3 separate regions of the Homo sapiens genome follow, and regions 1 and 3 are each linked to region 2. Evidence: fine-mapped expression QTL. A gene starts in region 2. Each other region holds a variant in brackets. All regions are shown on one strand. Distances are between the middles of the regions.

Region 1 (8,177 bases), 140 kb after region 2:
AATAATAGCATCAACTTATAAGGCTGTGGGGGTTAAACGAAATAACACATGGAGTATCTGGCACAAGGTAACGCATCACTAAATGTTTTCTTTAAAGAAATCTGTTTATCCAAGATTTATGCAGACAGTTTCCTGTCCCTGGCTTTGGCACATACTTATTTGCTTATCTGAAATGATATTAATATCAAACAGAGTATGAATTTCAGAAGTGCTGTATTCCACAGTGGGGCTGAACAGAAGAATCCCAGCATCAAGGCCCCCAGCTACAAAAGATTAGAATGTTTTTGTTTGTTTTTTAATAATGTATTAACTGTAGGGGAAAATATAAAAATAGAAGCAGATATGATATTGGTAAATGTTTTTTATTTGATCACTTTAGGTAAATGGAGTCTTACTCACCTGATAGGGTCCCCAGTGGCAGCGGACTTTCCCATTCCCTCTATCCATCATTCTCCCAAAAGGTGATGGTTTCTCTGTTCTCACCCTAGGTCAGCTAAATTAGGGTCTGTGGCAACAACCCCAGGAGTGTGACCGCTAATTGCCTTTGCAGACAACATTTCCACTAGAGCTGCCTGGGAGGCAGCACCTCCAGAGAGAAGGACTTGCACCTCTAATTTGGTTAATCCTAGAACACCCTGCAATAGTCATCAAGCACCTCTCACAAATGATATGCTGTGCTTAAGGCCGTGGGGACCCAAAGGGCGAATAAGATTGGATGCCTTTTTTTTTTTTTTTTTTTGAGACGGAGTCTCGCTCACGTCACCCAGGCTGGAGTGCAGTGGCACGATTTCGGTTCACTGCAACCTCTGCCTCGTGAGTAGCTGGGATTACAGGCGCCCGCCACCATGCCCGGCTAGTTTTTGTACTTTTCATAGAGACGGGGTTTCACCATGTTGGCCAGGCTGGTGTCGAACTCCTGACCTCAGGTGACCCACCCTCCTCGGTTTCCCAAAGTGCTGGGATTACAGGCGTCAGCCACCGTGCCCAGCCTGGATGCCTTTCTGAAGCGGCAGGTTAAAAAAAAAAAAAAAAAGATTGGATGCCTATCCCCAAAGAGCTTAGGGGAAGCTAAGCGAGGAAATGAGCCTGGCTGTGAGCTGGAAAGTCAGCGGGCAGCAGGGTGTGTGACCGACCTGGAGGAACGAGTGTGGGGCAAGGTGAATGTTAGGGAGCCATTGCAAGACAGTGGTAGTTGAGATTGAAAAAACACAGGACTTGATGGGCTAGATGACAAAGTGAGGAAGAAGGTGGAGGAAAAGATGTCTGAGGTTTTGACCCTGCAGGTACATGAGAAGAGAGAGATGGTAGATCTCGGTGAGAAGCAATTTGGGAAGACAATAGTGGTGTGTCCTGGGATGCTCTGACCTTTGAGTCTGTGTGCAGAACCTCTTTCTCCAATTCCTAGGGGTGCCCTCATCCACAACTGGCAGTAGCCCCTGGATGGCCACAAACATGCAGTCCTACAACCATATTCCCTGGATGTCACTTCCTCACATAATCTTTGCCACATACCACCTATACTATTTACATAATTATTTTTCTTTGAATTGATTCACTTTTTTCCACTTTTTAAAAATGGAGCTTCACTGTAAGCAACAGTATCCAAGATATCAAACTTTGCCTGTAACATGCATGTGTAATTGTGTATACGTATATACATGTGTATACACATACATAAAAAATACACATACATATGTATTTATAATTTTGTTTGTTTGGCTATATATACATTTTTGTTTTGTTGTGTTTTGTAGAGACAGGGTTTCACCATGTTGCCCAGGCTACTGTTGAACTCCTGGGCTCAGGTGAGCCTCCCAAAGTGCTGGGCTTACAGGCGTGAGCCACCACACCCAGCCAAAAATACTGGCTTAAATACTTAAATATTTTAAATACTTAAATATTTTAAGGCCGATTAATGTAAATATTTTAGGTACTAAAAAATAGGAGGTGTTGTTTAATAGTATTGAGATGGGAACTTCTCAGCCCTTCCACTGTCCGTCATAACTTCCTGCACCCTCCCTTCAATATGGACATAAAATCGTGTTGTTCCCTGAGATATGTAAGCCACATGTGCACCCACATTTGCATACACACTAGTGTAGGGTGCAGGACCCCTTCTTCAGGCTCCTTTATCAGGAGCAATGGCCCTGTATAGAGGTGGCTGGTGTGACCCTTATTCTCCTGTGTTCTTGTTCACCTGTGGGGTCGGAGAGCTCTCCTGGAACTGCCCGTCTATGGAGAGGCCTCCTCAGACATTTCCCATCTCCCGGTGCCCAGGAGTTGTTGACTTTGGCCAGCTGCTGGGCCTGCAGGAGCCGCGGGGAAGGGTTCTAAGAGACCCTTGAAGCTCTGTGGCTGGAAGGCAGCTCCAGGCTGCCTGGCTGTTCTTTTGTGTTGAGTATTTCACTGGCCCCAGATAAGCGCTTCCTGTTCCTCACTGATTATACACAGATCCTGCTTCCTTTCTCCTCAATACCTGGGATGCTTTCCAGCTTCTCCTCCCATAGGGGAAAGTCCGTAAACTTTAGAATTCTCAGGCCTGCTTTTGGTCAATGGACTTTCTGCAAATTATGACTGTTTTTGCCATCTAGTCACATTCTTGGTGAAGCCTTCACCTCTGTCTAGGAGCTGAGTTCCGCTTTGTGCCAGCCAGGAGAGATGCTTCTATGACCTGGTTTCTGCCCCTCCTTCTCACCAGACAGAACATCTGTATCTACCTCCTGGCGTAAATCAGAGAGAATAAATAGATTGCACCTTACAGGTCAGTTTTAATCAACTGTTAGTAGCTGCCTCAGTGTTGAGGATTCTGAGGTCTTACCCACCTTTAGCAAGAAAGAGTGCCATGGTCTACTAGCAGTGTCTGCCACAAGCACGGAGGGATGGGACTGCTCCTGTGCCCCATATTTGCTATCCCAAGATTCCGAGATCAGTTGGAAGTTTCTTTATTTTTTATTTAGAGACAGAGTCTCACTCTGTCACCCAGGCTGGAGTGCAGTGGCGCAATCACAGCTCACTGCAGCCTCGAGCTCGAGGGCTGAGTCGATCCTCCCAGCTCAGCCTCTCGGGTAGCTGGGACTACAAGCGTGCGCCACCACACCTGGCTAATTTTTTTTGTATTTTTGTAGAGACGGGGTCTCATCTAACTTTGTTTCCCAGGCTGGTCTTGAACTCCTGGGCTCAAGTGATCCACCTGCCTCAGCCTCCCAAAATGCTGCGATTACAAGTGTGAGTCCCATTCCCAACCACAAGTTTCTAGAAGGCAGAAATCATGTCCTTGTACCCTTAGAGTTACAACATAAACGCCCAAAGTCCTATATTCTAGTGCCAGTGTCGAGGAAATCCAACAGCCTCCAGCAGGCTCAATTTCCTTTGTTTTTTTGATTCAGAGTCTCCCTCTGTCACCCAGGCTGGAGTTCAATGGTGCGATCTCAGCTCACTGCAACTTCTGCCTCCCAGATTCAAGCAGTTCTCCTGCCTCAGCCTCCCAAGTAGCTAGGATTACAGGCACCCGCCACCACACCCGGCTAATTTTTGTGTTTTTAGTAGAGACGTGGTTTTGCCATATTGGCCATGCTGGTCTTGAGCTCCTGACCTCGTGATCCTCCTGCCTCGGCCTCCGAAAGTGCTGGGATTACAGGCATAAGCTACCGCGCCCGGCCCAGTTTCCCATTTTTTAAATGAACATAATAATATCTGCTTTACCTATATCCAGGAGTCAGTAATATCAAATCAGATAATTCATATGGAATGCTTTAAAAAGTAAAACAACTGTAGAAGTATATCCTGCCTGCAGGACCCAGCACAGATGCCACCTCCTCTATGAAGTTTTCAGTTGTAACACGATAATTCTTGCCCATTGCCATCCCTGTCTTATCTGAACCTGTCATTTATAGGCTTATAGTCTAGTT[A/G]TTTATGTACTTTAAAAATCTCTCCTGTGGTATATCATGCATATAAACAGCCACCTTTTATATGAGATACTCACTAAACTTTGATGGAGGGCTCTGTACAGAGCTGTCACTGCATCTTGATCATCTGGTAGGCAGTCCTGTAAGAATGAGTAGCCTCCTGCTAGCTTTAAACAGCACAGTTTTATGTTTTAGAAAGATATTTCTAGAGGTAAGTGAAGGGTAGACTGGAAGAGATGAACTGAGAACAGGAGCACTGATGACTCAATGGAGAGAGGATTTGGGATCCCTTCATTTCTGTCAACTACCCTATTCTTGGACAACAGACATTTTGTCAATGTGAGGCAAAGCAACCTGCCGATGTGGTTTGCAGCCCACTACCACCCCTTTCAAACCGGGTTGCCCCCCACCCCCGCTGCCTTCCTCCTGGGTGAGAACCTGCAGGAGCTCAAGCAAACCCAGAAGGCTGCTGCAGGGGCTCCTCCTCGGAATAGGGTTCAAAAAATGTCCAGAAGCCATATAATTGGGTGGCCCAGAGCAGGTTAGGGAGGTAACTAAAGTCATTAAAGTGGATTTTGAGGTTTCTGGTTAGGTACACTGAAGGCACAGGATTGAAAATAATTCATCTGGGGTTACTTTTAATAGCTTTGCTTACTGTTGCTATGATATAAGACATACTGATTGTAAAAATTTCAAGTGAAGAAGAAAAATATGAAAAAGGAACTAATAAAATTGCCTGAAATGTTAAAAATCCAGCGATAACATTTGGGTGACTATGCTTCCAGATTATTTAATTGGCTTTTCTCACTGAACAGTTTGTCCAGCACACTTTATTCAGGTCAATAAATGTGGATGACCGGGCGTGGTAGCTCAAAGCTATAATCCCAAGCACTTTGGGAGGCTAAGGCGAAAGGATCACTTAAGGCCAAGAGTTTCAGACCAGCCTGGGCAACATAGTGAGACCCTGTCTCTACCAAAAAAAAAAAAAATTAGCCGGGTGGTGTGGTGCTTGCCTGTAGTCCCAGCTATGCAGGAGGCTGATGTGGGAGGATTGCTTGATTCCATGAAGTCAAGGCTGCAGTGAGCTACAGTCGTGCCACTGCACTCCAGCCTGGCTGACAGGGCAAGACCCTATCAATCAATCCATTAACCAGTATATCAATCAATCAATCAATAAAAAAATCACCCAAAAGGCATGCAGAACCTGCAGCCACAGGGCAGGAGCGGGGAGAGGCTTCCCCAGAGCTGCCCATGTCATGTGGCAGTTCAAAAGCCAGTTGCCTTTATTTTCTTCCTAAAGTCATCCATGGCCTTGCAAAGACAGGAGAGTGTCTACAGAGACAGTGGAGGGAGTGGAACAGAAGCCAGCCTTCTGGGGGCTGAGAAGTACCTGGGAGGCGGGGAGGGCATGTAAGCAGCCTGTGTACATGCGGGGAAGGGAAAGGGGGAGAACCAGAAGGGGCAGCTGCCCACCAGCAGCTTCCTGGGCTCTCCTCCCACCTCCTCCTCACTCACAACAGCGCACAGACTCAGCCTCAGCTCCTTCTCTCTGGCCTCTTCCACCTGAGTGAAGATCAAGTGCAGGAGAGGTTGCACAGGCTGTGCCAGCTGCAAGGAACCCACAGACCCCTCCTGTGTTTCACCTGCAGTGACTCCATATTCGTCCTCCCCCATCCCCGCCATCCAGCAGATTATGTGCCCCACTTCCTCTGTGCCACACACATCTTTTTTCCCTCCTTCAAATCATCACCCATACAGAGGACAATTCGCAGCCTCACTCATTATAAGAGTAATGGAAACTCCAGTGAGGGACTTTTTTACCTGTCAGTTTGGCAAAGTTTAAACAGTTTGATAACCTTGTATGGGCAAGGGTGTGGGGAAATAAGCCCTCTCCCAGGTTGCTGTTAGCAGTGTCAACTGGGAGAAATTTAATAACACTCCTCAGAACTTAAGTGTGCATATCTTTGACCTAGTGATTCCCCTCACAGCTGGAAATGTGTCCTCCCACTATAGACATACATGGGCGACACGGTGAGTGTTCAAGGGTGTTCACTGCAGCAGAAGCCTGGGAAACACCTCCATGTCTGTGAGCATGGGCCCCTTGAGTCGGTTATGGCACCTCCTGTAACCCAGGAGGAGGCAGCTCTGTGGGGATGGCTATGGGACCAGCCCTACTATGCCGGCGAATGGAGTGGGGGCAGAGTGGCGTGGGTGGGTATGGGCAGGCCAGAGAACAGGCTGCAGGCTGTGAAGGAGAAAGGCATTTGCTCTTTCAGCCCAGTCTGAGCTCCTGGTCAGAGGCCAGCAGGTGGACTCTGCATCCTGTGGGGGCCAGGGCAGATGTTCTCACCTGAGGGCCTGAGGGGAGGGAAGCGTGTCAGTAGATTCCCAGGCACACAGCGACAGGGGAGAGACAGAGGGAGGGGCCCAGCAGGGTTCACCTCAGGGAAAGGAGGACTGGGCCTCCAAAGCCAGTTTCCACGAAGACACTTCCTGCAGCACATTGGTGGCTGGGCAGTGAGCATAGACACTGCACAGACACTGCCCAGGCCCAGCAAACCCAAGGTCACAGCCGATGGGAGAGGCAGCTTGCGACTCAGCAGGCCCAGCGCTCCAGGCTGCAGAAATGCGGACTCGAAAGCAAGTTGAACTTTGACATTGTTTGAAAGCCTAGGGCTCTGTCCCGGGGTCCCCCTGGTCAGGGCCACCACAGAATGGCTGTGCCTAGTGCTCTGGGAGCAGAGTTTTCCCTCCTCCAGAGCATGCAGCTGTCGGGGGACATACCTAGCCAAGTGTCCGGCTCTCCATCAAGACCTCAAGCAGGCCCACGTCAGCTGAGAACCATGTGTGTCTCAGCTTTCCAGCCATCCCAGCAAGTCAGGACACATCTGAGACCACCCCTCCAACCCAGCTCTTGCCCACGGTCATTGGTGTGCCTGAGCCAGCTGGCACCCAGCCAATTGGTAGCATCTCTTCCGCGCTGAGCCTTCAGTGACTCATCGTGGTACCTTGAAATCAGCGGGAGTGTTTACACCATGAATACCAGCAAATGCTTTGGTTTTTCACTTTGTTTTTTGCTTAGAGAGCCAGTTGTTAGGCATTTACCAACACACCACCGAACCAGACCTGTCTCCCCAGGTAAAGCGCAGGTCACAGGCTCCTAGAATACCAATAACTTACACATTTAGTGACTGAACACAGATTTCTTACAAGCTCCCCGCATGCCCCACACTCTGCCTGGTCCTCTCCAGTGTGAGAGGACACTCACACTTGAGTGTGACAGCCACACGTGAGATAATCACTCTGCCAGGCAGTAGGTGTTCTTATTCCTATTTTACATGTGGAAACCAGAGGTTCTGAAAGGTGATGTACACAGGCACACAGCTTGTAAGTGGGGTTCAGCTAGGACCCCTGATTCCGTATTTGTTGAACACCTCAACACGGTCGGCACTCCCAGTGCCCTCTGTGTTTAGACAAACAGCTGAATTTGATTTTTCCTTCCAAAGGAGACCATCTAGTCCAGGCCCCTGCTTCAGGCTGATGAAGTAAAATATTCCCATTTTAAAGATGAGACGATGGAGTCCAGAAAGGTTAGAAAGAGCCTGGAACCCTGATCTCTTGCCTCCTGTGCTCTAAAACGAAAGCTTGGCTTCTGCGGGGGAGCCAGTTTTTAAAAACAAACCTTAGGTCAAATCTAGGAGGCAAAATTGCCAGGTTCTTTGGAATGCGAGGGGAAGAGAATAGTTTTGAGATCATCCACAAAAGAAAGAATCATTTGGGGAAAGCAGAGGAAAGAGGTGTTTATGGTGAAACTGACACCTAATTGACACACTCTTACTTTTGAGTTTACTATTCAGTTATGAAATGCTTTTGGAGCCCCTCTGCTACCAGTGCATGGGCTTTAAAGCCATTTGTTGACTAAATGCTGTGACAGGTGCTAGAGAGAGCAAAGTCACTTCATTGGTTTAAGACCAGTGTAGGCCAGGTGCGGTGGCTCACCCCTGTAATGCCAGCAGAATTGGGAGGTGAAGGCGGGCAGATCACTTGAGCTCAGGAGTTCGAGACCAGCCAGGGCAACATGGTGAAATCCTGTCTCTACCAAAACTACAATAAATTAGCCAGGCATGGTGGCACATGCCTGTGGTCCCAGCTACTTGAGAGGCTGAGATGGGAGGATTGCCTGAGCCCAGGAGGTGGAGGTTGCAGTGATCTATGATTGCGCCACTGCACTCCAGCCTGGACGACAGAGTGAGACTCCATCTCAAAAAAAAA
Region 2 (8,177 bases):
CTTGCTTCCCCTTCACCTTCTGCCATGACTGTAAGTTTCCTGAGGCTTTCCAGTCATGCTTCCTGTTAAGCCTGTGGAACTGTGAGTCAATTAAACCTCTTTTCTTCATAAATTACCCAGTCTCAGGTACTTCTTTATAGTAGTGTGGCAACGGATGAATACATCTACTTTTCTTTTCTTGTTTTGACATAATGGATATGCCCTGGTAATAAAAATTTAAAATAAATGTCGCAGTACAGAGATATGCATGGCACTGAAAACACTGTATCACCGTGATTTGTGGTGTACTGAGCAGCAGTATGAAGTGATAAGAGCATATACTGTCCCTGTTGCAACTACAGTCAGGCACCATATAACAAAGTTTTGGTCAATGAGGGATCACATACATGATAGGGTCCCATAAAATTGTAATACTATATTTTTACTGTGCCTTTTCTATCTTTACATATGTTTGGATACACACGTACCAATGTATTACAGTTACCTGCAGTATTCAGTACAGTAACATGGTGAACAGGTTTGTAACCTAGGAGAAACAGGCTATACCATATACTCTAGGTGTGTAGTAGGCTATACCACCTAGGTTTGTGTATACTCCATATGTTCACAGAGCAATGAAATTGCCTATTTCTCAGAATGTATCCCTATCATTAAGCAATACATGTCCTAAACTCCATCATTGTTTTGTGAAAGCAGCCATTGGCAATGTATAGGCTAAGGAGTATGGCTATGTTCCAATAAAACTTTATCAACACTGATATTTGAATTTCATATAATTTTCATGTGTCATAAATATTATCCTTATTTTTATTTTTATTTTTTGGGACAAAATTTCGCTCTTGTTGCCCAGGCTGGAGCGCAACGGCGCGATCTCGGCTCACTGCAACCTCCGCCTCCCGGGTTACAGGCATCTGCTACCACGCCTGGCTAATTTTTTTTTTTTTTTTTTTTTTGAAACGGAGTCTCGCTCTGTCGCCCAGGCTGGAGTGCAGTGGCACGATCTCGGCTCACTGCAAGCTCCGTCTCCCGGGTTCACGCCATTCTCCTGCCTCAGCCTCCTGAGTAGCTGGGATTACAGGCGCCCGCCACCACGACCGGCTAATTTTTTGTATTTTTAGTAGAGACGGGGTTTCACCGTGTTGACCAGGATGGTCTTGAATTTCTGACCTCAGGTGATCCACCCGCCTCGGCCTCCCAAAGTGCTGGGATTACAGCCGTGAGCCACTGCGCCTGGCCCTTATGATCTTTTTCAACCACTTAAAAATGTAAAAAAAGCGGCCGGGCGACGTGGCTCACACCTGTAAAACCAGCACTTGGGCGGATCACCTGAGGTCAGGAATTCGAGACCAGCCTGGTCAACATGGAGAAACCCCGTCTCTACTAAAAATACAAAATTAGCCGGGCGTGGTGGTGCATGCCTACATTCCCAGCTACTCAGGAGGCTGAAGCAGGAAAATTGCTTGAACTCGGGAGGTGGAGGTTGCAGTGAGCCGAGATGGCACCATTGCACTCCAGTCTGGGCAACAAGAGTGAAACTCCGTCTCAAAAAAAAAAAAAAAAAAGTAAAAAAAAAAAGTCTTAGCTGAGACCATTCAAAAACAGGCAGCAAGCTGTAGTATGCTGCTCTAGATGGTTGTTTTTGGTTTGGCCTCTATGCCTGGTGCTACAAATCACCAAATTCTCTGAGGGGATGAAACAGCAGTGAATACAAACTCGCTTGAATGAATTTCCCTTCTGGTATTTTGACTCCTCACGTCCTGGCTGACTTGGTTGACAGTGATGCCTTCAACTCAGCTGGGTTTTGTTGTTTTATTTTGGTATTTTATCCAGTTTATAGTTAGTTGTTCTTGATGAAGGAGTCAATCTGACATCAATACCCCATTAGAATGGGAAGTGGAAGTCTACATGTTAATTTTAATTTGCTACTTTTGCTTACCATTATGAGCCTCCTTCTATATTGACAAATATATCTCCACAATGTCATAACATTCCATTAGATGAATGCACCATGATTTAACTTAATAATTCCCTATAGGGGACATTGAAATTGTTTCTAGATTTTTTCACTGTGATGAACACACTTCTACAGGTTTATTTTTGTACCTAGTTGTTTCCTTCAGATAAAATCCTAGAAGTACGTGGATAAGTCAAAGGGTTCACACTTTTAAAGGTATTTCACAGGTATTACCAAACTTCTCTTTAGAACTGTTACACAATGGCCCAGCATCTATGTGCTTCTTAGTATAGGGGCCAATGCTGGGTGTTACCATTCTTTTCTTCCTTTGCCAATCTGACAGATGAAAACTGGTTATCTCAATGCTGTTTCCGTTTGCATTTCTGGTTTATAGGTGTGGCAGGCTGATAATGGCTTACTCCCAAAGCTGCATCTATGACCTAATCCCTGGAAACTGTGAATGTTTAAGGAAAAGAGGTCTTTGCAGATATGAAGTTAAGGATTTTGACATGGACAGGTTATCCAGGTGGTCCTTAAATGCTATCACAAGTATCACTTTTTTTTTTTTTTTTTTTTTTTTGAGACAGAGTCTCACTCTGTCGCCAAGGCCGGAGTGCAGTGGTGCCATCTCAGCTCACTGCAACCTCCTCCCTCCAAATTCAAGCGATTCTCCTGCCTCAGCCTCCCAAGTAGCGGGGATTACAGGCGCCTGCCACCACACCTGGCCAATTTTTTGTATTTTTGGTAGAGACAGGGTTTCACCATGTTGGCCAGGCTGGTCTGGAACTCCTGACCTCGTGATCCACCTGCCTTGGTTTCCCAAAGAGCTGGGATTACAGGCGTGAGCCACTGTGCCCGGCCACAAGTATGGTTTCTTACAAGAAGGGGGCAGAGGAAAATTTGTCACAGACAAAAAAAGGAGAAGGCAATGTGATTACAGACGCAAGGGTGGGAGTGATGTGGTCACAAGCCCCCAGAAGCTGCAAGAGACAAGGGTAGATTCTTTTCGGAGCCTCCAGAGGGAGCATGGCCCCGTCAACACCTCCATTTCTACTCAGTGAAACTGACAGTGGACTTCTGTCTTCCACAACTATGAGAGGATAAACTTCTGTTGTTTTAAGCCACCAAGTTTTCGTGATTTGTGACAGTAGCAGCAGAAAACTAGTACAATAGGTTTTTCATATATTTATGGACCATAAACATGAAAAATCGTCTGACTTTTAAATCTTATAAAAATAAAATAACACACAATAATACAAAGAGTATGATTCTATGTATGTACATCAGAATATCTGTAAATACGTTTACATATGTTCATAACTGCCTAGGAAAGTGTCTGGAAGGATATATACCAAACTAGTGACAGTGGTTAACCAGAGGCAGTTAACTGAAAGTGGTTAATTAGAAGGGTCCTGTGTCCTGAGGGGGAAAGAGGAACTTTTACTTGTTACTCGATACTGCTCAAGATACATCTGTTATTTGAAAACGCTTTATGAGACTGTACTCATGTATTGTGTAAAAAATTAGAAAAGGCATATCTGCTTGTTATAAAGTTCATAGAAACCAGAAAACTATCTCCTTTCACTTATCCTTTCCCAGAAATAGTCATTGATAATAATTTGCATCTTCTCAGATTTTTTTCTACGCAGAAATAAATGTGTATAATTTTTTTAAAAACAAAAATAAAATAGTGAGTGTCATATATAGTGTTTCATTTAAAGATGTTCCTCCAAAATCAATCTTGGTCCATGTGCCTGTGTGTGTGTGTGTGTGTGTGTGTGTGTGTGTGTGTGTGTGTGTGTGTATGGGTGGGGGGAGGGGCGGGGACACTGCATAGAACTGGCCAGCTGCATGGACTGTCACTGTAAAGAAAGATGAAGAATGCATGTCACCAAGCTCTCTGATGCTTTGAACCTAGCATATGTGGCTTTGCCCATATGTGCGGGCACCTCTGTAGAAACTCTTCTGCCAGTTGGGCTGAAAATAGTTTTACATAGTTCCATACTGCCTTCCAAGCTGTTTTCAAAGTTTATGCTCTAATAGTTCCCCACGGAGGATAACACAAGATATTCATTTTCCTCAAACTTTCCCGCACAGGTTGGAGAGAAACGACATCTTAATGTCATTGTAACAGGCATTTCTTTATTAAAAAAATTTTTTTTTTGGAGACAAGGTCTTGCTATGTTGCCCAGGCTGGTCTCAAACTCCTGGGCTCCAGCGATCCTCCTGCCTAGGCCTCGGGAGTAGATGGAACTCCAGGCGCGGGCCGTGGCGCTCGCACCACAGGCATTACTTAGGTATGAGGCTGGTTGAGCATTTTTCTCGTGTTCACTGGCTACTCACGCAGCTTTGTGAATGGCTTCGGAGATCACTGGACAGGCAATTTTCCCTCTCAATGAACCAAATCCAAATTCTTTTGGAACCCAAGACCGCGATTTTTCGATTTAGGACCTAGTCCCAAACAATGAAGAAAAGGTGATCTTCAAGATTTCAGCAGGGAAATCTGTATATCTGTACAAGGTTGAAAACCTGGGCCGGGGGTCGCGTTGGAACCCCACAGGAAAAAGGCGCGGAAAGCCGCCGGGCATTTTCCGGGGTTCCATAGATGTCCCCAGTGTCCTAGTCCGTGCATCAGCTCGCGCACTCGGAGGGACTCTAGGCAGGGGGAGGGCCCCGCGGCCAGTATGTGCGTCCGAGGCTTTCCCGCAGGGGGCAGTGCCGCCCGCCCGCGCGCCGATACGGTGGGAGGGGGTGGGAACCTGCGCGGAGTTCTGGAGGTTCTTTGGGAGAAAGTTAGGGGATGCGGAGGGGTGGGCGCAAGACTTCCAGGACTCCAGGGAGGCCGTGGGGAGGGCCGCCGAGGGTGCAGTGTGAGGCGCAGGAGGGGGTTGGGGGCGGTGCACGTTGCAGGGAGACGCAGCCCCTGGAAGATGCGAGTGTGAACGTGTGAGTGTGAGTGCGTGTGTATGTGTGTGTGTGCGCGCGCACCGCAGCTCTCCGGGTTCCGCGAGGCGCGCGGGTGTCAGCTTGCAGCCGGGGCTCCTCCCTCCGGCCCCCCTGCCCAGCCCGGCGGTCCCTCCTCCCTCCCTCCCCGCTCGCCCCTCCCCGGCGGGCCAGGGGCTGGGACGCCCCGGCGGAGCAGGCGGCGGCGGTGGCGAGTTGGGGAGCCCTAGGCTCGGCGCTGCCGGAGGGGCCCGAGCCGAGCCGCCTGCGCCCCGGCCGGGCAGCGCCGGGCCCGCTTCCCGCGGGGCCACGCCCTGTCAAACTTTGTTGCGGCGGCTAGCGCAGCGGGCCCGCAAGCGGGCGGGAGGGGCGCCGGGCCGGGCCGGGCAGGGCGCGGGCGGCTAGGGGCTCCGAGAGCGGCGGCCCCGGCCCGCGGCCCCACCATGCCCCAGCTCGGCGGCGGGGGCGGCGGCGGCGGCGGCGGCAGCGGGGGAGGCGGCGGCTCCAGCGCCGGGGCGGCCGGCGGAGGGGACGACCTCGGGGCGAACGACGAGCTGATCCCCTTCCAGGACGAGGGGGGCGAGGAGCAGGAGCCGAGCAGCGATAGCGCCTCGGCGCAGCGGGACCTAGACGAGGTCAAGTCGTCCCTGGTCAACGAGTCGGAGAACCAGAGCAGCAGCTCGGACTCGGAGGTAAGGAAGCACCGCGGCCACCCCCGGGGGATCCCGGCCCTGCGTCCGCTCACCCGCTCTTGCCTTTGTGTCTCCTCCGCAGGCGGAGAGGCGCCCGCAGCCCGTCCGGGACACTTTCCAGAAGCCGCGGGACTATTTCGCCGAAGGTATGTGCCCGCTGGGACAGCCCCCCACTCTCGATTCCCGCTGCGCTCCGCTGCTCAGCCCGGGCGGCCCACCGTCCCCCTTGCTTGGGTGGACGCACCCTTGCCCTCCGCCTTTATTGGCGGCAGCCCCCGTGGGGCGCGCGTGGGGGGCGCTGGGGTCCCCAGCTCCCGCCTCGAGCCCCCTGCCGCGGCGCTGTCAGTCCCGGGGGCCTGGGCCTCACCTCGCCTTGGTCTTGTTCGCAGTGAGAAGGCCTCAGGACAGCGCGTTCTTTAAAGGACCCCCGTACCCTGGGTACCCCTTCCTGATGATCCCGGACCTGAGCAGCCCGTACCTCTCCAACGGACCCCTGTCTCCCGGAGGAGCGCGCACCGTGAGTGCCCGTCGGGCGCGCCGGGGAGGGTGGGAGGCCGCGGCCCGCAGGATGCGCCCCCGGGCTTGGCCATGGAGTGGGGGATGGGGCCTTCTGCGCCGATCCCAAGCAGAACTTGTTTGCGGAGTTGAACTACTCTCTGGCGGCCGAGCGCGAGGCTGCGCTGGCCAGTGCCTGGATGAAAGTAAAGTTACTTTAACTTTTCCCCTCTTGCGGGTTGAGGTTTTGGAGTCCACCTCTGGGATCTTCCTTGGCCTCCAGAATTCTTCGCCTGCACCGAAGGAAACTTGGATTTGTGCCCGCTTTGGGGGGGTCTCGCTTTCCTTCTTGGAAATCGGTCAGCTTTCTCTGGCAGTGGGGCAAGGGGCCTAGGGAGCTGGGTTGGCGACGTTGTCCTCCGACTCCGGGTTCACTGGGCGGCTGCAGGCTGGTTCCTAAGAAACCCAGTTTTCGTGGCGGGTTATTCACAGCCCCCGTTCCCACCCCCAGCCCTCGCACCGGGGCCTCAGCTTTTCTGCGGAGCTAGCTCCGAATTTTAAACTCGCGTAGATGATTTCGAGGCGACCCAAGGCATTCTTCAAGTTGAGGAACTTGGCTTTTTCCCCCTTTTGTCGCCTGCTTTTCTCATTTAAAGCGAGCGCTGCGACACTTTAAACCTGTTAATGGGCGCGTATTGTGTGCTGCCCGCTGGCATTTAGAGCGGTGATTAAGCAAATTGACCGGGCCCCAGACGACGTGCAAATGAGGGCGGATTCCTTCGCCCCCTCTCTCTGGCTCTAAACTCCCGCCCCCCGCGTTGCGAGGGGCGCAGCTGGGGGCTGGCGAGGCCTTTGTGTCCCCCAAGCCGCCACTCCACCCCTAGGCTCCCTGCCCAGGTGCTGGGTCCGATGACAGATGTTGGGTGAACGCCTACCTACTGTGTGCCAGGTTCCCGCGTGCTGCTGCTTGGGCGCGATGTGAATCGTAGTAGTTCTTTGCTTCCCGCCCAGATTCCCATTGCCTGCCACTTCGCTGTCGACGGTGGGTAAGGGGGCAGGGAGTGTTAGCCTCTTAGGAGCAGGGTCCCAGCAACACACTTTATGCTAAGACTGCCCTAAAATAACGACGATAATTAAAGGGTGCTAGAGAAAGGCTAGGTGCTGAATGGCCATTCCTGCTGTCATTGTACAGCGGTCGGTGGAGAGCCAAGTCCTCCACATTTGGTTCAGCGGGGGCGCTACCATCACCAGATGGGTTGGAGGGGGATTGACGGGGGGCGGTGGAAGAGACTCTGACTGAGAGAGAGGGGAATGGGGAGTGGGACTACACAGACCTCACAGTTTTGCCCCGAGAGGGAGGGAGGTCTTGCAGCTTTGGCCCTGCTGGCCTGGAGCACCCCAGGAAGTCCTGAATGTAAGTGTCAGTTTTGCAGTGAAAACTGGATGTGGGTCTATGGCTGTTGCTTTTTCTCATTAAAAGAAAAGAGGTGCGTGCCAATCAAAGGGGGGGGGGGATCAACGAGCTGCTGCGGTCTTATTTAGGTTTTCAGTGATTCCCACCAGTGCCCACACATGTAGCTTAGTTCTGCAAGTTTTGTTGGGATTCGTGTAACTTTGCGTATGGGGGAGAGTTAATGCCGCTAAAGTCTCAGGTTTCCATTTACTATTAGGATATCTAGAGAGAGGGGTCTGGGAGGCACTAGCATCTGTGCATCAGCCCTCAGCCAAGTCCTGATGCAGTTAAAGTCACCAGAAATGACTATTTCACCATCAAATATGACTATGGCTCCCTCAAGGCTATTTCTCCATGCACCCATTTCTCTTTAGGGCATTTTGATTCATCCAGGCTCTGCTGTCTGCTCTCTCTGACAGTCCAAGTGAGACAGATTTTTGTTAGTGTCCCCTCCTTCCTTCCTTCTATCACATTATGTGTTCTTTCGCCTAAGAACTTCCAAAGGCTGATTCTTGCTGATCCTGGAGATTCCTGATTACTAAATCCAGGCCCGTGTGGGATTTTGGAGCCCCTCCTTGAGGCAGCCAACCTTTCGTCTCTGCATGCCTCTCTGACTGTCCTTGTTCATCTCTGCAGTTGT
Region 3 (8,177 bases), 46 kb after region 2:
GAGCCACCGCGCCCGGCCAGAATTCATTCTTATAAAGGGTACAATTCAGCAGTTTTCAATATATTCACAGGATTGTGCAACCATCACCACTATCTAAATTTAGAATATTTTCATCACTGCATTAGCAGTCACTTTGTTCTCCTCTCCCCCAACCTTTGGCAGCCACCGGCCTTCTTTTTCTATGTTCTGGACCTGTCATATAAAGGGAATCGTACAGTGTGTGGTCTTTGTGATTGGTGTCTTTCACTTAGCCTGGTGTTTTCAAGGTTCCTCTGTGTCATGGTGTGTATCAGCACTTCCTCCGTTTTTGTTGCCAAATACTGTACTGCATTATATGGATATACTACATTTTGTATATCCATTCATCATTTGGGTTCGTTCTACTTCATGGCTACCACTGAGTCATTTGGAAATGTGATGCAAGGCTCAAGGCTAATGGGGTTTCCTCGCTTCCAAAAAAGAGGTGATGTTGCCCACCTGGCAGGTGGGTATGAGGCTCAGCAATGGTACATGCATCTCATTTAACTGGTCACTGTCAACTCCAAAAATGGGCCTTCCCCCATTTCTGTGGCTGTTCTGTGCTGGTGTGCAGTGTGTAAGATGGTCAGTGTTCCTGTGTTTTGACTGGTGAGTCAAGTCTGAACTCACTAGCCTAGCACCTGAGAGCCTCCTCATGGGATAGCATCCCCCTGACTCCGCCTGACAACCATCATTTCTCTTCAGTTTTCACTCCTGCCCAACTGGTTTCTTCGCAGTCTATGCCCAGGGCCTCCAGCTTTCTCACACTTGGGCCCTGCTGGGGCATCCAGCCTCTGCTCCTACATCCTTGGGTCACTGCAGGTCCCTGCCCGACCCTACCTTTCTTCCTCCGGACCTCATATTAGACCAGCTCCTCAGGCCTTTTTGGACATGACCGTCTCAAAGTGTTACTATGTTTAAGTGTGTGGTTTTTTGTTTATGTGTGTGGTTTTGTGTCTTTGATATCGTTGATTTGCCTTATGGCCTCAACCAAACCCTCACTGTAACATGGCACAGGCAGCGCCATGTGACATCCTTGTCCCTGGCCCGCCCGGCGCAGCTCACAGTGGGCTCTCTGTGAATGCTGGCTGGCTGAGTGTCTGGGAGTTGTGAGCCCTTTGCCATGTAACTGGAGAGGGTGGAAGTGTGAATGGAGACACCTGCTCAGTTGTACAATGCTCTTTGGACAGGGGATCAGGTTTAAATCAGTTTGAAGCCTGCTTTACCACCCCCTGCCCCCACAATTGTTATTTCCTGAAAGCATATGGTTGGCTGAGCTAGCTGAAAAATTACCCGAATTTTGATAAAAATTTGAACCATGGATTTCCTTTCTGACCATGCCTAGCTGTGTAAATTCCACAGGATAGTAACAGGTGCCTGGCCACCATCCAGCAAGACCCCTGATAACGTCCATGCAGTGGGGAGCCACGGGGGCAAGTGCTTCCCCTCCCTCCTGGTCATAGGCTTGAGCATGGGTAGCCAGGATGGGGGGTGGGTGCAACTTGAGATAAGCAAATCGACAACAATGAGGTACACCCTGTTCTTTGTCCTCTTGTCAACTTGTGATTTCCCGATGGATCAGGTAATCCCCAGTAGCAGATAACTCAGTTGAATTTTTTCACTGTCGCTGTTATCTGTATTCATTGTCTGCCTAAATAGTAGTGAACAGAGAAAAAAAGAACATTAAAATAGGAAGCTGGGAATGACAGGAAGAGGGACTGTAGGCCTGGTAAACAAAAGTTGGCTGTAACATGAGCCAGGATATGGAAGCGTGACCAATACTTTGGACTCTCTCAATGCTGGCCCTCTGCGGTTCATGGCTCTCCTCCCTTTCTCGCTGTCACCAGCCACGTTTAGGTCAGTCTTTGTTTTTGGCTGTTGTTCCTGAAGACGCATTTATCAGGTGGATCTCTTAAAATCAGGGTTAGGGATTGGAAGTCTAGCTGGGACAATTCCTGTGAAGACAGACTTCCTTCTGATGAAATATTTACTAGCTTTTGTAGGAAGCCATCTCCTCCTCTTTGCTGTGATAAGAGGTACTCCCCACCTTTCTGTCTCATGGCAAGGGTGGAAACTGATGATATTTGTAGGGCATACTGGGGTGAGCCAACAGGCTGGAGGCAGCCAACCCTGGGCATGCAAAGAAGCACCGTTTGGAAGCTCTGGTGTAGCTCTCGTGCAGCAGCAGTCCAGGCCCTGGGACATCTGAGTTTGAGGCTTCAGTCCTCCGCTGACTGACCATATGTTTACACTGCAGCCTGTTGTGGTATGAAATGAGATCTGGAAGCACCTGAGCTCCCCAGTGTCTGCAGGTAGATGATTATTTAATACCCTCTTCCCATACATCTTCATGGTCAGGAGACTGGACCTTGGCAATTCTGTTATTAGACAGCTCCACTCGTAGGGAATTTCTCCCTTATATTTAGCTGTTGTTTTCTCCTCCATTCCACTGTCTGGAGTCCCCATGGCAAGTTCGCATCCTCTTTCATGTCCCTGGCTCCAAAGGCTTTGGTGTCTCCAGGTAAGTAGTTCTCACATGGGCTATGACCCCTCATCCTTCATTATCCTAGAAAAATAATGCTTTTCTGAAAATTGTATATTCCATGGGAAAATCAGTAGATTTTGGAAGCCTGACATCTTAGTCCGTTCTGGCTGCTATAACAAAGTGCTGGCCAGGCACAGTGGTTCACGCCTGTAATCCCAGGACTTCAGGAGGCTGAAGCAGGTGGATCAGTTGAAGTCAGGAGTTCAGGACCAGCCTGGCCAACATGGTGAAACCTTGTCTCTACTAAAAATACAAAAATTAGCCTGGTGTGGTGGCAGGCACCTGTAATCCAAGCTACTCAGGAGGCTGAGGCAGGAGAATCGCTTAAACCCAGGAGGTGGAGGTTTCAGTGAGCCGAGATCGCACCACTGCACTCCAGCCTGGGTGACAGAGCGAGACTCTGTCTCAAAAAAAAAAAAAAAAAAAAAAATCCAACCACAAAGTGCCAGAGGGTGAGTGGACTATAAACTGCAGACATTTATTCTCATAGTTTGGGAGGATAGAGGGTGAGATCAGGGTGGTGGCACTGTCGGGTTTTGGTGAGGACCCTCTTCCAAGTTGCAGACTGCTGACTTCTTGCATTCCTCATACAGTGGAAAGAGAACAAGCCAGCTCTCTGGCCTCTTCTTATAAGGGCACTAATCCCATTCATCAGGGCTCCACCCTCATGACCTAATTACCACCCAAAGGCCCCACCTCCAAATACCATCACATTGGGGATTGGATTTCAACACAGGAATTTGGTGGCAGGGGTGTGGGGCACAAACACCTTATAATATTTGCCATATGTTTTAAAAAAATTTTAAGTATAAAGTCAACATCCACCACACTATATAAAAGAGAGACCTGGAGTGGTGGCTCATGCCTGTATTCCCAGCACTTTGGGAGGTCGAGGAAGAAGGATCACTTGAGCCCAGGCATTTGAAAGTGGCCTGGGCAAGAAAACAAGACCCCATCTCTACAAAATAATAAAAAACTAGCCAGGTGTGGTGGCGCATGCCTGTAGTCCCAGCTACTCGGGAGTCCGAGGCAGTAGGATTGCTTGAGCCCAGGAGTTTGAGGCTGCAGTGAGCCATGATTGCGCCACTGCACTCCAGCCTGGGCAACAGAGCAAGACCCTGTCTCTAAAAAATAAAAATAAAAAAATGAAAAAAGGGAAAAGACGATTATAATCCTACCACCTAACAAACTGTTTTCATTTGAGTCTTATCTTTGTCTTTATTCTGATGAATTCATATTTTATATAGTTAAAATCAAAGCATAGGTACACAGTTTTTGGTGGTTTCTTCATTTCATTATATAATGATTTCCCTCAAAGTTCTAGGCATT[A/G]TAAGATGAAGACGACAGAACACAGATATCATGTAGCTGCAGTAAGCATTGGGATGGCTGCACACCATTCTGTGGAACGGATATAGAGTCATTTGTTAACCAGTGATACTGACAGAGAGCAAGCAGATCAGTGAAGACAGGAGCAGGGCCCCCGAGCCCTGAGAAAAAGCAGGGACCTTGCCAGGTGAGGAAAAAAATGGTATGAGGTAGGGCTACACTACGCTCCCAGAGACGTCTCCATGGACAGTGAGCTCTTTAGAGGGGAAAGGAGTAAGCTTTTGAACCATTTGAATTATTTAGAAGAAAAAAACACAGTGCCTTTCTTACACACTTTTCAGAATTTCCTGTGTTTTCACCTGCCATTAGCTGGTTACTGTTTGGGCTTCCTTTCATGGTGGTAAACACAGTTTGTTTTGTTTAGCCATTTCCTTCCCCCTCAAATACCAACACAGATCAATTCAGTCTTTGCCTGAGTCATACATGGTTCATGTGTCTCTTTCCTTCCATCTATCTCCCCTTAATTCACACTATTTACTGAACTCCTCCTGTGCACCCAAGTCTCCAGAAGGAGCTGGAGAAGGAGCAGGGTGGCAGGGGTGGGAAGGGGACAGCTGTGTGGAAGGCAGCGGGGCTGGAATCCTGGCATCTAGGCCCTTTCACGCTCCCACTCAGAGGGCTCTCTCTTCAGGCCAGAAATGCTGATATTTAATGAGCACTTACTAGATGGTTATTTGTCCATTTTATAGACAGGGAAATTGAGGCCTGCCAGTGTTAATTGACCTTTCTACGGCCTAGAATCTGAAGTTGGTGCAGCCTCACTGAAGCCCTGGCTCAGCCATGGTTGCCACCCATCCTGTCTGAGCTTTGAGAACCACAGAGACAAGACAGGCGGCAGGGCTGTGATTTTAGACACTCTTGTCTTAGGTGTCTCAAGGTGGGGGTCACTTTGGAGCCTCAGCCAACCCCACTGTGATTGGATCTCCTGCCTACAGCCTGTTTCAAAGGGAAGTGGAGTTTAGGGAGACAGTCAAGAGGATGGATGGAAGAAAGGGGCTGGTTAACCTGAGAGGAGAGAAAGTAACTACCCACCCGTCAGAGCCTGGGGCTGATAAGGGAGGGCTCCTGGAAGACAGAGCTGGTGCTTCTCTCCACCTCTGAGCTGCTTTCCCTCCAGGGCCACTGGCTTCTGCAGGCGTTGTTGTCTTTTGCTCCTAAACAGCAAAAAGAGACTAATTGCCTTTATTGCCATGTTAAAATCAATAGAGCCACTCACCCTGAGTTCAAAATGATACGACCTAGGGAATGAAATTGGGACCACCTGTGGTTTGTTTCCTATTAGCCAGGCACAGAACAGTTTCTTGTTTCCCTTGGAATGAAACACAACCTGAGTCCTGGAGGAATAGTTCTCAAATGCATCCGGATCTCCTGGAGAGCCTGTTAACACACAAGCTGAGCTCCATTCCCAGAGTGTTTGATTCGGGGATTCTGGGGTGGGGCCCTGAGAATTTGTATTTCTAAGTTCTCAGGTGATGCAGATGCTGCTGGTCCCAGATGGGACTCTGAGAACCTCTATACTAGGTCATCTCTCAGACTTGGGCCTTTGTTCTCATCTTCCCCCTCCAAAACCTAACATAATCCACTACATGTGGTAGAGAGCCATCAAAAAGAGAGTTTCAGTCAAGGGGCTCTGGCTAAGTCCTGGAGCTGAGCTGCCCCCTCCCTTGCTCTGCTCACACCTTTCACCCCTCAGACTGAAACCCTCCGTTACCTGCTGCTATGCAGGGATTAGGATTAGAACAGGGCTGAGTGGGCTGGTACGGGGAGGGCCCTGCTGTGGTGTTGGTTTAGCTCCTTTTAGCACAAGGAATTTGATGAGCTAAGCATTTTCCACGGCAAGTGCATAAAAAAGATTTCTTACCATTTTTTGAAAGAAAGAAATATATCCTTTCTCTTGAGTCATCACTATTGTTAGTTGCTGAATGAAAAAAAAAGACTTAAAGCTCTGTTCTTTGAACACTTTTCTCTGGGTGCCTTTCTGTAGCTGTAGAAGATCTCTTGGGTTAAATTTTAATAATTGTTAATGGCTTCACACATAGGGGGTGTCTTGCCCTCCTGTGTAGGGTGTCACTGCCCAGGACGTGGCTTAGCCGGGTCCTGGGAACAGCTGCAAGGACTGTTGGAGAAAGGGGCAGGGGGCACTGGCTGGGGAGAGGGCCGAGAAGATCTCCTTTGAGAGATGGGGAGGGAGATGTGAGGCTGAGAATCTAGTATTGAGTTTCTAAACTTCTGATCTGCAAAGTGGTTTTTTTTTTTGTTTTTGTTTTTGTTTTTTTTTTTGGTAGAGACAGGGTCTTGCTATGTTGTATGTTACCCAGGCTGGTCTTGAGCTCCTGGCCTCAAGTGATTGTCCCGCCTTGGCCTCCCATAATGTTGGGATTACAGATGTGAGCTACGGTGCCCCAAAGTGCTCTTTTTGTTGAACAGTGTGTGAGCCCAGCTACCTGGAGGGTGTGTCTACCTGCCTGACCCTCAGCCATCGCAGCCTCATGACGGCTACACCCCGCACATTATCATACCCCTCAAATGTGCCTTCCAACCCCACACAGATTTCTTGTGGTTCCCATCCTGGTGAATCTTCTCAGTTATCCACATTACAGACCTCAGTGGAATCTTCCACACCACCTGGCTCATGATGGTCTCTGCTCCTTGCCTTTCACGTTCTTCAGAGGCTAGTGACTTCCTAAAGTGAGGATTGAGGAAATAACAACCACGATAAGAGTTACAGCTGACCCTGGAGTGTTTCCTGTGCACCAGGAGCCCGTTCCAAGTATCTGTATTTATTCACTCGTGTCATCTGTAGCAGCCCCAACACATAGGTTAGGACCTGTCACTAGTCCCATTTATAGGTAAGGAAGCTGAGGTGCTGGGAGGTTGCATGATGTGCCGAGCATCTCACAGCCAGCAAATAGCAAGTAGCTAGACCGCTTCCTCCCTGGCAGGTCTGAAGCACATGATTCCTAGCCCCAGCCTTCCTAAGGGCCCCTAACAGACGGTGGCCTTCCCCTGGCATCCAGAGTGGCTCTGCTGACTGGAGCAGTCAACTGTTTCTCCTCTGCAGTTCCTGAAGGAAGGAGAAAAGGGGGAGGCTGGTGGGTTCAGGTTTCGTAGACCTAAGAGGCCAGCTGCCCTGTGACCCCTCCTGAGTTGGGGCTTCTTTTTGGGGGATTAGGGAGGAGAGTTATAAGAGAAAGAGGTGCGGAGAGCAGGGAGCACCTGAGAGAGGGCTGGAAGAAGTGGTAAATAGATGGACCTGCCCAATGAGAGTAGCCAGCGTGTGCATGTGAGGGGCAGGTAGCACAGAGGGAATGTATTCCTTGTCTAACTTGGCATATAGCCAAAAGCTAGGTGTAAGTTAGTAAACTACAGCCTTCAAAACAGCCCCTGGGAAAGGCCCTGCTTTGGAGGGTAGAAGGACATATAGGAGGCTCCCAGAGGTACGGGTGTGCCTCCCTGCTGGGCATGGGCCCGCCTGCTGGGGGCAGCAGCAAAAGGAAGCAAGTAGCCCGGAGGAAAAAAAGAACTATGTGTGTGACTGTGTGGTGGCCAGGAGAGAGGGAGAGGGTTCAGCACACACAGGGAACCCCAGGCAGCTCCCAGAGCCCAGGGGAAGCATTCCTTTTTGTAGTTGAATGATCCCAGGGGAGCAAAAGGCTGGCTGGAGGAGAGGGAGAGGAATTCTGCTTGGAGGAGAAGGTCTGGGGCCAAACTGCCCCAGCTAAGGTGACTGGTCCGTGTGTCTGCATCTTAAATCTGAGACCATTGGTTCCTTTGCACCTGTGTAGTATCCTCAGGGAGGGTTCCCAGGGCGCTCGTCTGGTGTTGCCCCTCTTTGAGGCACCTCACTCATTGACCATTAAGCAAGCATCGAGTGGGTGTCAGTTTAACAAGTGTCTTGTGTTCAGTGCCAAGGCCAGGGGCAGGTACAAGGCATGCTGAATGCAGCCCCTGCCACAGGATCCATGTTTCAATAGGGAGGGAGACGCAGAACTTTGCGTAAAACTGAAACCTTATGGGGCGGGCCCTGTGGTGTCTAAGGCCACACTGGGAGTCTCAGATCCTGCCAAAGGACAGGGGAAAAGGGAGCAGCTGGTGGACATGGGGAGGAGGCAGGATGGACGGGGCGCCTGAAGGAATTAAGTGGGATTTCGGTTGGAGAGGAAAAGCAAAGATGGCAGGGAGAGACGAGGCCCTCAAAACTGAGCTTGTTCGTCAGATGGGAGATGGA

Alleles and levels. Positions count from the first base shown, and alleles are read on the strand shown. Sizes are in standard deviations (SD) of each study's normalised expression.
As copies of A replace G in region 1, the expression in tibial artery of the gene that starts at base 5,048 in region 2 goes down (small effect, 0.23 SD a copy in GTEx).
With allele A in place of G in region 3, the expression in left ventricle of the gene that starts at base 5,048 in region 2 is lower (small effect, 0.18 SD a copy in GTEx).

What was found. PIP is the estimated chance that this variant, and not a neighbour inherited with it, causes the effect. A credible set is the group of variants that fine-mapping cannot tell apart.
Region 1: its variant is the best candidate, but not a certain one, in a credible set for the expression of TCF7L1 in tibial artery (GTEx, PIP 0.68).
Region 3: its variant is the best candidate, but not a certain one, in a credible set for the expression of TCF7L1 in left ventricle (GTEx, PIP 0.50).

Annotation. Positions count from the first base shown.
Region 1 is chr2:85,267,752-85,275,928 of GRCh38, forward strand. All of the region lies in intron 3 of TCF7L1 (transcription factor 7 like 1), which reads left to right. Among named protein-coding and RNA genes, the nearest start is that of TGOLN2, 56 kb to the right of the region's middle. The variant A/G (reference allele first, on the strand shown) is at 3,909.
Region 2 is chr2:85,128,345-85,136,521 of GRCh38, forward strand. TCF7L1 (transcription factor 7 like 1) reads left to right here and starts at 5,048. Exons shown (of 12, transcript NM_031283.3): 1 at 5,048-5,589; 2 at 5,672-5,735; 3 at 5,979-6,106. The coding sequence starts at 5,341. RefSeq lists a silencer at 4,648-4,717 and enhancers at 5,083-5,657, 6,233-6,807, 6,808-7,381.
Region 3 is chr2:85,174,017-85,182,193 of GRCh38, forward strand. All of the region lies in intron 3 of TCF7L1 (transcription factor 7 like 1), which reads left to right. Among named protein-coding and RNA genes, the nearest start is that of TCF7L1-IT1, 8.3 kb to the right of the region's middle. RefSeq lists a silencer at 7,376-7,513 and an enhancer at 7,622-8,177. The variant A/G (reference allele first, on the strand shown) is at 3,893.